2 separate regions of the Homo sapiens genome follow, and region 1 is linked to region 2. Evidence: fine-mapped expression QTL. A gene starts in region 2. The other region holds a variant in brackets. All regions are shown on one strand. Distances are from middle to middle.

What was found. PIP is the estimated chance that this variant, and not a neighbour inherited with it, causes the effect.
Region 1: its variant is the best candidate, but not a certain one, in a credible set for the expression of SULT4A1 in fibroblasts (GTEx, PIP 0.51).

Annotation. Positions count from the first base shown.
Region 1 is chr22:43,899,122-43,904,491 of GRCh38, reverse strand. No RefSeq gene overlaps it. Among named protein-coding and RNA genes, the nearest start is that of PNPLA5, 9.8 kb to the right of the region's middle. The variant A/C (reference allele first, on the strand shown) is at 3,095.
Region 2 is chr22:43,859,501-43,864,870 of GRCh38, reverse strand. SULT4A1 (sulfotransferase family 4A member 1) reads left to right here and starts at 2,358. Exons shown (of 7, transcript NM_014351.4): 1 at 2,358-2,657. The coding sequence starts at 2,489. RefSeq lists an enhancer at 4,043-4,542.

The DNA.
Region 1 (5,370 bases), 40 kb before region 2:
CTTTACCCGGGGGAGTTTAGAGAAGACTCTGCTCCTCCACCTCTTGTGGAGGGCCTGGCATTAGTCAGGCTCGCCTGCAGTTATCCAGAGGCCTAACCGTCTCCCTGTGATGCTGTGCTTCAGTGGTCACGCTCCTAGTCTGCCTTCATGTTCCATCCCGTACACCTGGCTCTGCCTTCTAGATAGCAGTAGTAAATTAGTGAAAATACTAATAGTCCCTGGTATGCAGAAATAATGGTGTAAGCTGTCTTTCTCTCTGTCTCCTCTCCTTCTCTGCCTCGGCTGCCAGGCAGGGAAGGGACTCCTGTCCAGTCGACACGTGACCCACGTGACCTTACCTATCATTGGAGGTGACTCACATTCTTTACCCTGCCCCTTCTGCCTTGTATCCAATAAATAACAGCGCAGCCCGACATTCGGGGCCACTACCGGTCTCCACGCATTGGTGGTAGTGGTACCCCTGGCCCAGCTGTCTTTTCTCTTATCTTTTTGTCTTGTCTTTATTTCTACACTCTCTCGTCACCGCACACAGGGAGAGACCCACCGACCCTGTGGGGCTGGTCCCTACACACTACAGCCTCTGTCTCCTGGGTTCAAGCAATTCCCCTGCTTCAGCCTCTCCAGTAGCTGGGATTACAGGGGTGCACCACCACACTCGGCTAATTTTTTGTATTTTTAGTAGAGACGGGTTTTCACCATGTTGACCAGGCTGGTCTCAAACTGCTGGCCTCAGGTGATCGGCCTGCCTTGGCTTCCCAAAGTGCTGAGATTAGAGACATGAGCCACTGTGTCTGGCCTAGAAATACTTTTAATGAACAGAAGGAGTCCGGCCTGCGAAAACAACTCCTCCTGACCTGGTATCCACACCCAGCTCCCACCCCAGCCCTTCCAGTCCCCACCACGTCCCTCGCAAATCAGCCCTGTCTCTCCCCACTGCCTCTGCCCCCGGCTGGCCACCATGATCTCTCAGCCAATCTTTCCTTTCACTGTGCCTCTCCATAAAAGCTGCTTCAGGGCCAGGCGTCCCAGCACTTTGGGAGGCGAGGTGTGTGGATCATTCGAGGTCAGGAGATTGAGACCATCCTGGCTAACATGGTGAAACCCCATTTCTACTAAAAATACCAAAAATTAGCTGGGTGCTACTCAGGAGGATGAGGCAGGAGAATGGTGTGAACCCAGGAGGCGGAGCTGGCAGTGAGCCGAGACCACACCCCTGCACTCCAGTCTGGGTGACAGAGCAAGATTCCGTCTCAAAAAAAAAAAAAAAGCTGCTTCAGGGCCTGCTCTCAACCCTCTTCCACCCCGGTGTGTCTGCAGGGCAGGCTGGCCCCCGGGGGCTGCAACCGCAGTCCTCAGTAAGGATCGTCAGCTCTGACAGGCGACTGGGCCACGGCTGTGGGGAGGAGGAGGTATTTGAGAATCTGTGTGTGTTGGGTCGGGGGCAGCATAGGGAACACGTGGTTTGGGGAAGGTGATTCTAATGCAACCCCACCCCCTTGAAATCCAATCTTTATAACTGGAACAATTTTAGGCCGGGCACAGTGGCTGTCATGCCTGTAATCCCAGCATTTGGGAGGCTGAGGTGGCAGGACTGCTTGAGCCTAGGGGTTTGAGGCCAGCCTGGACAAAATAGGGAGACCCTTTTCTCCACAAAAAAATTTAAAAAACGATCTGGGTGTGGTGATGCGCACCTGTAGTCCCAGCTATTCGGGAGGCTGAAGTGGGAGGATCACTTGAACCCACAAGGTCGAGGCTGCAGTGAGCCATAACCACACCACTGCGCTCCAGCCTGGGCAACAGAGCCAGACCCTGTCTCAAAAACAAAACAAAACAAAACAAAACAAAATTGGAACAATTTTAGGCATACCAAAACGACTGGAATTTGTTTTCAAAATGTGGATCAGTATGTAGAAACACATAAGTAATCTTTTTATAAAAGTCTTACATTTATTTACTTATTTAACCTCAAACTTTTGGCCTCAAGAGATTCTCCTGCCACAGCATCCCAAAGTGCTGGGATCATAGGCATGAGCCACTGGGCTCAGCCTGAAAAGCCTCACATGCATTTAAAGTGACCTGGAGTCATTTGTGATGAGCAAAACAGATGCCTCTTAGAGAAACCATGAAGAGGGACACAGGGCAGCTAGAGACCAGACCAGCCTTAAGGATGCATCTTCCCCTTGAGACCAGGACCCCTGCCGCACCGGCAGCAAGCTGGGTGCAATCCACTGGGGAGCCCTGGACTGCTGCCCAGGCTTTCTGAGGCGCAGGCAGAGTGGAAATGGCTGGCCCTCTTTCTGGCAGAAAAGGCAGCACCCGGAAATGAGCATTTAGGCTGAGCCAATGGGCAGGGGCAGATGTCAGATTTCAGGTTATCCCACAGAGCAAGAAACAAGCAGCTGCTCCCAAATAAAGAGCAGCAGGAACTTGAGCCTGCTAGGGGAATTTCTAGCCTCTAGAAATAGTCCTGAGGTGGGGTAGGGTGCCTGTCACCCAGAGAGGAAAGTGGGGCAAGAGACCCCGGTGGCTTGGCTCGGAGCTGGGGCTCCACAGATGCCCAGGACCAGGGAGCAAGGGTCGGCTCCTGAAGGTCATGGGGAATCAGAAGCCAGGCTGGGATCCACGCTGCATTTGTGTGACCTGAGCGCAGTGGTCCTTGTGTGAGAACAAGTGGATACTCTCAGATGAGTTTTTTCTTAAGAGCACAAGTGAGAACCGGGGTTGCAGGAAACACAAAGGGGCTCCAACCTCTGCCAAGCACTTGGAAGAACACAGAAGCTGAAGGCTGTCCTTGGTGGGCTGGTCCACAAATAATCCAGTGGGGAAATGGGGGAGAGAGAGGGTGGTCCAGTTGGAAGGCTACAGCACCAGCAGGCACTCATGTTGAGAGGGAGGGTGGCTGGACCATGGAGCAAAGACCGGGTCAGGATTGAGGAAGGAGCATTGGCGGGAGGTGGCCACCAGCCAAGGGTGAGTGAGAAGGCATCAAGAGCCTCTCTCAGCCAGGCGCAGTGGCTCACACCTGTAATCTCAGCACTTTGGGAGGCTGAGGCAGGCGGATCACAGGAGATCAGGAGGTCGAGACCAGCCTGGC[A/C]AACATGGTGAAATCCCATCTGTACCAAAAATACAAAAATCAGCCAGGCATGGTGGCAGGTGTCTGTAATCACTGCTACTTGGAAGGCTGAGGCAGGAGAATCACTTGACCCTGGGAGGTGGAGTTTGCAACGAGCTGAAACCGTGCTACTGCACTCCAGCCTGGGCAACAGAGCAAGACTCTGTCTCAAAAAAAAAAAAAAAAAAAAAAAAAAAAGCCCCTCTCAGGTGTCTGCCCTGGCAGGGTGACAGGTACTCGTGGGTTTGGTGACAAGGTGATGGCAGGGTGACAAGGCCCTGGTTCCTGCTCCCACTCCTTAGCTGCCTTTGTCTCTCCTGTGGCCTCCTCTGCCTGCTCACTGGGCCACCAAGCCACGCTATGGCTTGTCCAGCACCCTGGCCAATGCCAGGCTTGGCACCTCCCCCACTGGGTGCCGTGTCTCTTGGCAGCCCGGGTTCCAGGGGTGGTCTGTCCATACAGCCCTTGGCTGGTTACCTGGAGCCCCCCAGGCCCACCCCTACCCATGATGGGTACCCAGAGAGTGCTGGAGACAAAGCTCCTGGGCAACTTTCTCCCTGACTGTGTTGCTGGCTGGCTCTCGGCCCTGAGAGGGCTCTGCTGGGGGCTCAGTCCCCATCCCCTCCTCCTTGTCTTCCAAGCCAGGAAGCTTTATTTTCCCCCTCCAGGAGGATGGAGCCCAGGCTTCATGGGGTGCTCCTATCTGAGCTCAGGTTCTGTGAGGGGCCTAGTGGCTTCCAGTTCCCTGTGCAGGGGAGTGTGGGGTGCGCACAGAAAGGAAAGCACGATTCTGGAACCACAGGGCAAGTGTGACTGGAGGGTTTCTGACCCCCCCGTTCTGATCCTGGCACTGACATTTCCTGGCTGCTGGGCCCTGGGTTATTTACGCAAATTTTCTGAGTCTCAGCTCCCTGTTAAGCGGGGGTGATATGCCTGCCACTCAGCAGGGGTGTCGAGGGTTAAGTGCTCTCTGGAGCTGAGTCCTCAGAAGGCACCAGGAGCTGGTGGCTTGGTTATTGTCATGATTGGCAGCTGGAGGTAGAGCAACCTGCTGTGGGAGACAGTCACCATCCCCATGTCCTGGGACGTGACGGCCACTGCTGTGCCCAGCACCTTTGGCACATCCCTCATCTCATCCTCACAATTGCTCAGGGAGAGGTGGCCCTGAACACCTCCATTTCACAGATGGGAAGACTGAAGTGCTGTCTTAGTCGGTCTTCTGCTGCTATCACAGAAAACCTGAGACTGAATCATTTATAAAGAAAAGGGACTTATTTAGCTCACGGTTCTGGAGGCTGGGAAGTTCAAGACTGAGGAGCCACATCAAGTGAGGGATGTCTGGCTGCATCATAACATGGCACAGGGAGAGGAAGGGAGAGCAAGACAGGCCGGACCCACAGGATAATGGCTGGAGTGCAATGGCGTGATCTCAGCTCACTGCAACCTCCACCTTCCAGGTTCAAGCAATTCTCCTGCCTCAGCCTCCTAAGCAGCTGGGATTACAGGCACCTGCTGCCACGCGCAGCTAATTCTGTTGTATTTTTAGTAGGGATGGGGTTTTGCCATGTCAGCCAGACTGGCCTCAGACTCCTGACCTCAGGCGATTCACCCAGCTTGGCCTCCCAAAGTGCTAGGATTACAGGTGTGAGCCACCACACCCGGCCCTGATTACCTCTTAAAGGTCCCATGTCTTAATACTGTCACAATGGCAATTAAATTTCAACCTGAGCTTTGGAGGGGATACAGTAGGCACAGGCACAGCAGGGTCAAGTGACTTGTTCAAGGTCTCTGACCTGGTCAGTGGCAGAGCTGAGATTAGAAACACGTCTGTCAGTTTGCAAAGCCCATGCTGACTGCCTGGCAACACAGCCACCCAAGACAGGCAAGGAGAGGGCTTCCGGGGCCAGGGGAAGGAGACAGCCCACCCAGAGCCCTTGTGCAATGCTTTCTGGCACAACAGGGCCTCCTGAAAAGACAGGTGGCAGCCTGGGGCACAGACTGGAGCCACTCTGCCTGCCAGTTCCCAGCTGGGTTAACCTGGGCAAGTTGCTTCATCTCCCTGGGCCTCAGTGCGAAATGCAGATAATCCAAGCACCTCACCTCCTGAGTTGTCATGAGGTAATCAGCTAATGATTAGAAAGTTACTTCACCTCCACTGGGCGCAGTGGCTCATGCCTGTAATCCCAGCACTTTGGGAGGCCAAGGCGGGCAGATCATGAGGTCAGGAAATCGAGACCATCCTGGCCAACATAGTGAAA
Region 2 (5,370 bases):
CTCACCTCTATCACTATAGATCAGTTTTGCTTGGTTTTGACTGTATATAAATAGAATCATATGACATACCATTTTTTGTGCTTGACTTAGTTTGTTCATCATTTTGACTGTGACATTCTTCTCAGTTACATTCCTTTTTTAAAAAAATTACTGTATTCCATTGTATGAATATATCGCAATTTATCTATTCTACTGTTGGGTACGTGGGTTTTTTCCCATTTTTGTCTAACATGCTCAAATTGTTTCCGATTTGACCTATGATAATACTTTCATGTTATACCCTGTGTCCTTCTGACCTATTCCCAACATTTTTGAACTTGCAGGAGTTCAAGACTCAACAAGACATTTTAGGCTCATCTTGTACTTTCCTTGCCCTGGAGTTGGCTTTTTCTCCAAGAAACCCCAGGTTCATTTGGTGAGGGAAGTATTTAGCAAAGATCTGGGCAGTGGGTATGCCTAGTATTATTGAGATATCACTGCCTAAAGGCTTTTCCAGCAAATATAAGAAATAGGAATTTTAAAATATCATAAACTCATGTCAATACCTCCAATTCCAATCCAATACCATAGAGTTCTTCCCTGCCTTCTCGCATTCCCCACTTACATTTTCCTTCTCCCACAGTGAGAACCCTCACCTGAAACATCAGGATATTCATTCATTCACTCAATCCCTCTAGCTTTTGGCTAGATGCCCTTTTGCCATTGGCCTAATTATTCTGAATAAAGGCTGGGTGCTCGGAATGTCCTCTTTCTTTTTTGGAAAGACATCTACAAGCTTCCCAAGTCAGGATTAATTGCTGTTTCCTCTCTCTGTCTGCTATGTACACATGGCCTGCGCTTCTCAGCCCATGTGTATGTCTTTGGTGTCAGAATGCACGTGTCTCACTCTACAGTAAGAAGGAGAGAGTAGGAATAGGTCCCGTCCAGCCACTCTGCTCCAGATTCTTGTTGGTGTAAACTCCTTCCATCTTCCTGGCTACACTACTTAGAGGTAGGAATCATTCTTTTCCTTTACACAGCTGATGATGCTCGGCTGCAGAGAATGAGAGCAGGCTGTGTTGTTTTCATCTTTGTGCTTCCCCAGGCATGTTAGTAGGTGCTTCATATATGTCTGTTGAGTGCATGACTGGCAAGGGGTTGCACTGAGATCTCTAGAACTCGGTTGCTCTCAAATTATAGTTTGCACAAGAAGTGCCTTACTAAATGTATATTTTTGTAATTTTTCTCCATAGATCTGGGGTCCTGGAATTTGCAATCCAACACTCCCCTCCCCTACTCATGGGATATTAAGAAGCACTTTTTGGCTGGGCGAGGTGGTTCACACCTGTAATCCCAGCACTTTGGGAGGCCAAGGTGGGCAGATCACGAGGTCAGGAGATTGAGACCATCCTGGCTAACACGATGAAACCCCGTCTCTACTAAAACAAACAAACAAAAAATACAAAAAATTAGCCAGGCATGGTGGCATGTGCCTGTAGTCCCAGCTACTCGGGAGGCTGAGCCAGGAGAATGGCGTAAACCCGGGAGGTGGAGCTTGCAGTGAGCTGAGATCGCGCCCCTGCACTCCAGCCTGGGCGACACAGCGAGACTCCATCTCAAAAAAAAAAAAAAAAAAAAAAAAGCAAAAAAAAAGCACTTTGTTTTTTTGGCTGGACTAGGTGGCCCATACTTTTTTTTTGTTGTTGTTAGAAGATCTCGTCCTGTTGCCCAGACTGGAGTGCAGTGGTGCAAGCTCACAGCTCACTGCTAATTTTTTTTTTTGTATGTTTGTAGAGATGCGGTTTCACCATTTACCCAGGTTGGTCTCGAACTCTTGACCTCAGGAGATCCGCCCGTGCTCGACCTCTCAAAGTGCTGAGATTACAGGCGTGATCCACCGCGCCTGGCGAAGACGCATATTTTTAATAGGACCTAATATTTACCTGAAATTATCTTGGTTATTTACCAATGTAAGCTCCAACAGGGCCAGGCTTCTGCTTGCTTCTACCCTGACGCGTGTCGGGGCCCTGGCCCAGTGCCTGGCACAGATCAGCAGCGCGCTAAGCACGTGTTGAATGGACGACTACCTTTCAGGGCCTTCCAGCCAGGGTATCTCATGCGTCTGTGTTGAGCGCTTGCTGAGTGACAGAAGCTATGAGCGGAATGAACGCACGCACGACTGAGGAGGCTGCAGACCGCGGGCCAGGGTCTCTGTCAGCCCCGGCAGCGGGTGGGTGACCCCGGCCGGGGGCGGGGCGGGGAGGACGCGGCTCCGCGGCGCCATGACGTCACGCCCGTGCAGCGCCGCGGCCGCGTGCCGGGCGGCGCCATGACGTCATACCCGCGGAGCCTCCGCCGCGCGTCGGCGGCGCCATGACGTCACGCCTGCGGAGCTGCCGCCGCGCGCCGGTGGGGCGCGAGCGTGTGCGGGGCGCGGGCGCGGGCGCGGGCGCGGGCGCGTGCGGGCTGCGAGCCGGGAGGCGGCGGCGGCGACGGCGACGGCGGCGGCATGGCGGAGAGCGAGGCCGAGACCCCCAGCACCCCGGGGGAGTTCGAGAGCAAGTACTTCGAGTTCCATGGCGTGCGGCTGCCGCCCTTCTGCCGCGGGAAGATGGAGGAGATCGCCAACTTCCCGGTGCGGCCCAGCGACGTGTGGATCGTCACCTACCCCAAGTCCGGTGAGCCCCGCGCCGACCGCGCCCGCCACGCCATGCCCCAGCCCTGCAGCGCGGCCGCGTAGACGCCGCGCCCGCGCCCGGGGCTTCTGCTGGGCCGGGTGGTCGCCCTTGGCCTCCGCCCCTGCCGTGCCCACCGCTCTCCCGATGCTCGGATCCCTGCGGGGCGGGGTGGGGTGGGGTGGGGGTGGGAAGGGGCTTGGTTCTCATCTGGGGAAACCAAGGTCAGAGACCTTCGGGAGCGGCCCCTTCCGTGGAGATGGAGCCTATTTGGCCGGCGCTGCAGGAGGATGGGCCCAGGGCCGCCACCCATCCCTGCTTCTCCCTTTACCTGGCTGGCTGTGTGACCTTGGACAGGTCACTCAACCTCTCTGTTCCTGAATCCTGCCCAACCTTTGATGAGTGCAAAGTCCTGGTGTTCACCTGGGAAGGGAGATAACATGGGCGTCAGGGCTTTCAGCGTGGAAACGTAACGTCCCTCCTTTCCAGCCTGGGCTCCGGGTGGGGGATGGGACCAGTCCCCGCCTGGAGTGCCTTGCTTGTACATTCTCTTGTTTCAGGGCTGCCTCCATCACCGAGGCAGGACCTGGGGCATTCACATTTCCCAGCATTAGCTGACGTCACTTTCACAATAACAGCTGTGTGAGCTAGTGGTGGTCATTCCCACTTTACAGTCTAGGCACAGAGGCTCAGAGAGGGGAAGAGGCTGGTCCAAGGTCACTCAGCTGGTGAGTGGCTGACCTGGGAATTAAAGCTAGGCTGGTCTGTTTCCAGACCTGAGGTAGGAGATTGTATAGTACCCCATCTGAGGTTTTTAGGGAAAGGAGGTAGCAGCTTTCCTGTTCTGTAAACATGCCCTGGGATTTCCTTGTTGCCACTGTATTTGAGGCAATCACAGCGTGGTTTAGAAGGTGTCTGGCTCTAAGGTCACGCCGGACCAGCAGTCGGGCAGTTTCAGGAAAAGCTGTAGGCTTGGCTGTTGTAGCTGTATGGAGTTCCAGACACCTGAGGGCAGGTCTCTGACATTCTTCTGAGGAAGATTGGAGTAGGGACTCTCAGTGGAGGGTGTTGGTTGGAGAACAGAGCGTTCGATGGGCTGCTATCTTGAGCACATGCCAGTCGCCGCATGGGGTGGGACCTAAAATGCTTTAGGAATGGCTAAGCGTGTCGTTGGCTTCTGTGGCCACTCATTAAGTCCTGCGGGCCAAGTGCTCTATCGCTGTTAATCTGTGAGGGACTCTTACACCTTTTTTTCAGAGGCTCAGAGAAGGCACAAATTGTTCGGAGTCACACAGTTGCTGAGGGACAGAGGTCAGGTCTAGCTAGGTCTCCCGGTCCACGGCCAGCCTCTCCCCTGCCTTATGGGTGCTCCGTTGCCCTTGGAAAACCGTGAGGGCCCAAGAAGGAGGGGGACCTAGCCTTCTTTCTTGGAGGCTTTAAAATGCTGGAAGTCTCAGCCACTTAGGGATTTTGAGGTTTGTGTCACTTCTCTGAGGCCCCTCCAAGTGGACTTCTGGTAGCCCAGTTCATATTTTCTTTTCCTTTCCTTCCATCTGCTACTGGGGATGGATTTGTAGCAGGCATCAGTGCTTACACATTAAGAACCTGGCTTCGGAGTTGGAAGTCCTGGGTTTGAATGCAGTTTTGCGGCTTACCAGCAGAGTGACCCTGGGCAGATCATAGAATCCCATTGAGCTGTGGTCTCTGCGGAGGGAGAAGAGACCACCTCGGCCCGCTGATGTGTGGCTGTGAGGATGAGCAAAATGGCGGGTGAGAACGCTTAGCCCACGTCCAGACACACGCTGGAAAGGCTCGTGGTTAATGCTGACTTTTAAGCCCTGAACACCTGTTGTGCCCAGATGCTTTGCTAGGGGCTGGGGAAGCCGAGAGGGCCCCATCTGGTGCCTGTCCTTAGTGAGCTCTCAGTCTGATGGGGGAGACATGGTTGGTGCTGGGGTTGGGGCAAGTAGCCAGGACTAACAGGTGCCCCATTCACCTGCCATGGCAGGGAACCCACGGGCCTCCTTGGATTTCCAGTGCCCAGGTGTAGGAGATCCTAATGAACTTGCAGGTGGTCAGAGCCGGAAGGGCCTGGTCCCTTGTCAGCCCCTTCCCACCCTCTGCTGATGGAGAAACTGGGGTTCAAAGGGGTGGTGGGGGCTTTCTGGTGGCTAAGGCAATGATAATTAGATCCTGCCTTCGCTTCCTGTCCGGTATTTTTTCCCACAACCCCGTGCTGCTTGCTCGGATTCTTTTTGTGCTTGCGACATTCTAGCTTAGATGGCGGGTTAGGACTGTGCTCTCCAGCGTAGGACCCTCTGCCCACAGGCGGCTGCTTACATCTAATGAATTAAAATGAAATAAAAGTGGAAATTCTGTTCCTCAGTAGCATCACCATGTTTCAGGTGCTCAGTAGCCACATGGGGCTAGCGGCTGCCGTATTGGGTGGCGCAGATATGGAGTGTTCCCATCACAGCTGAAAGTTCTGCTGCACAGCGCCAGGTAAAACCGTGATCCAGACAGTAGGAGCCCATTGTGTCTTCTGAGAAGGACCTTTCTGTTGATGACCGACTTTGTTCCTATTCATTCTTACAGCGTAGTTGGTCCTGGGACGGTGGTTGTATTAAATCCGATTGTGTCTGTGAAAATATTTTGTCCCTGTGTGTTGGTTTGATGCAATCACTGCCACTGGTTTTGTCAACAGGTTGATTTGAAT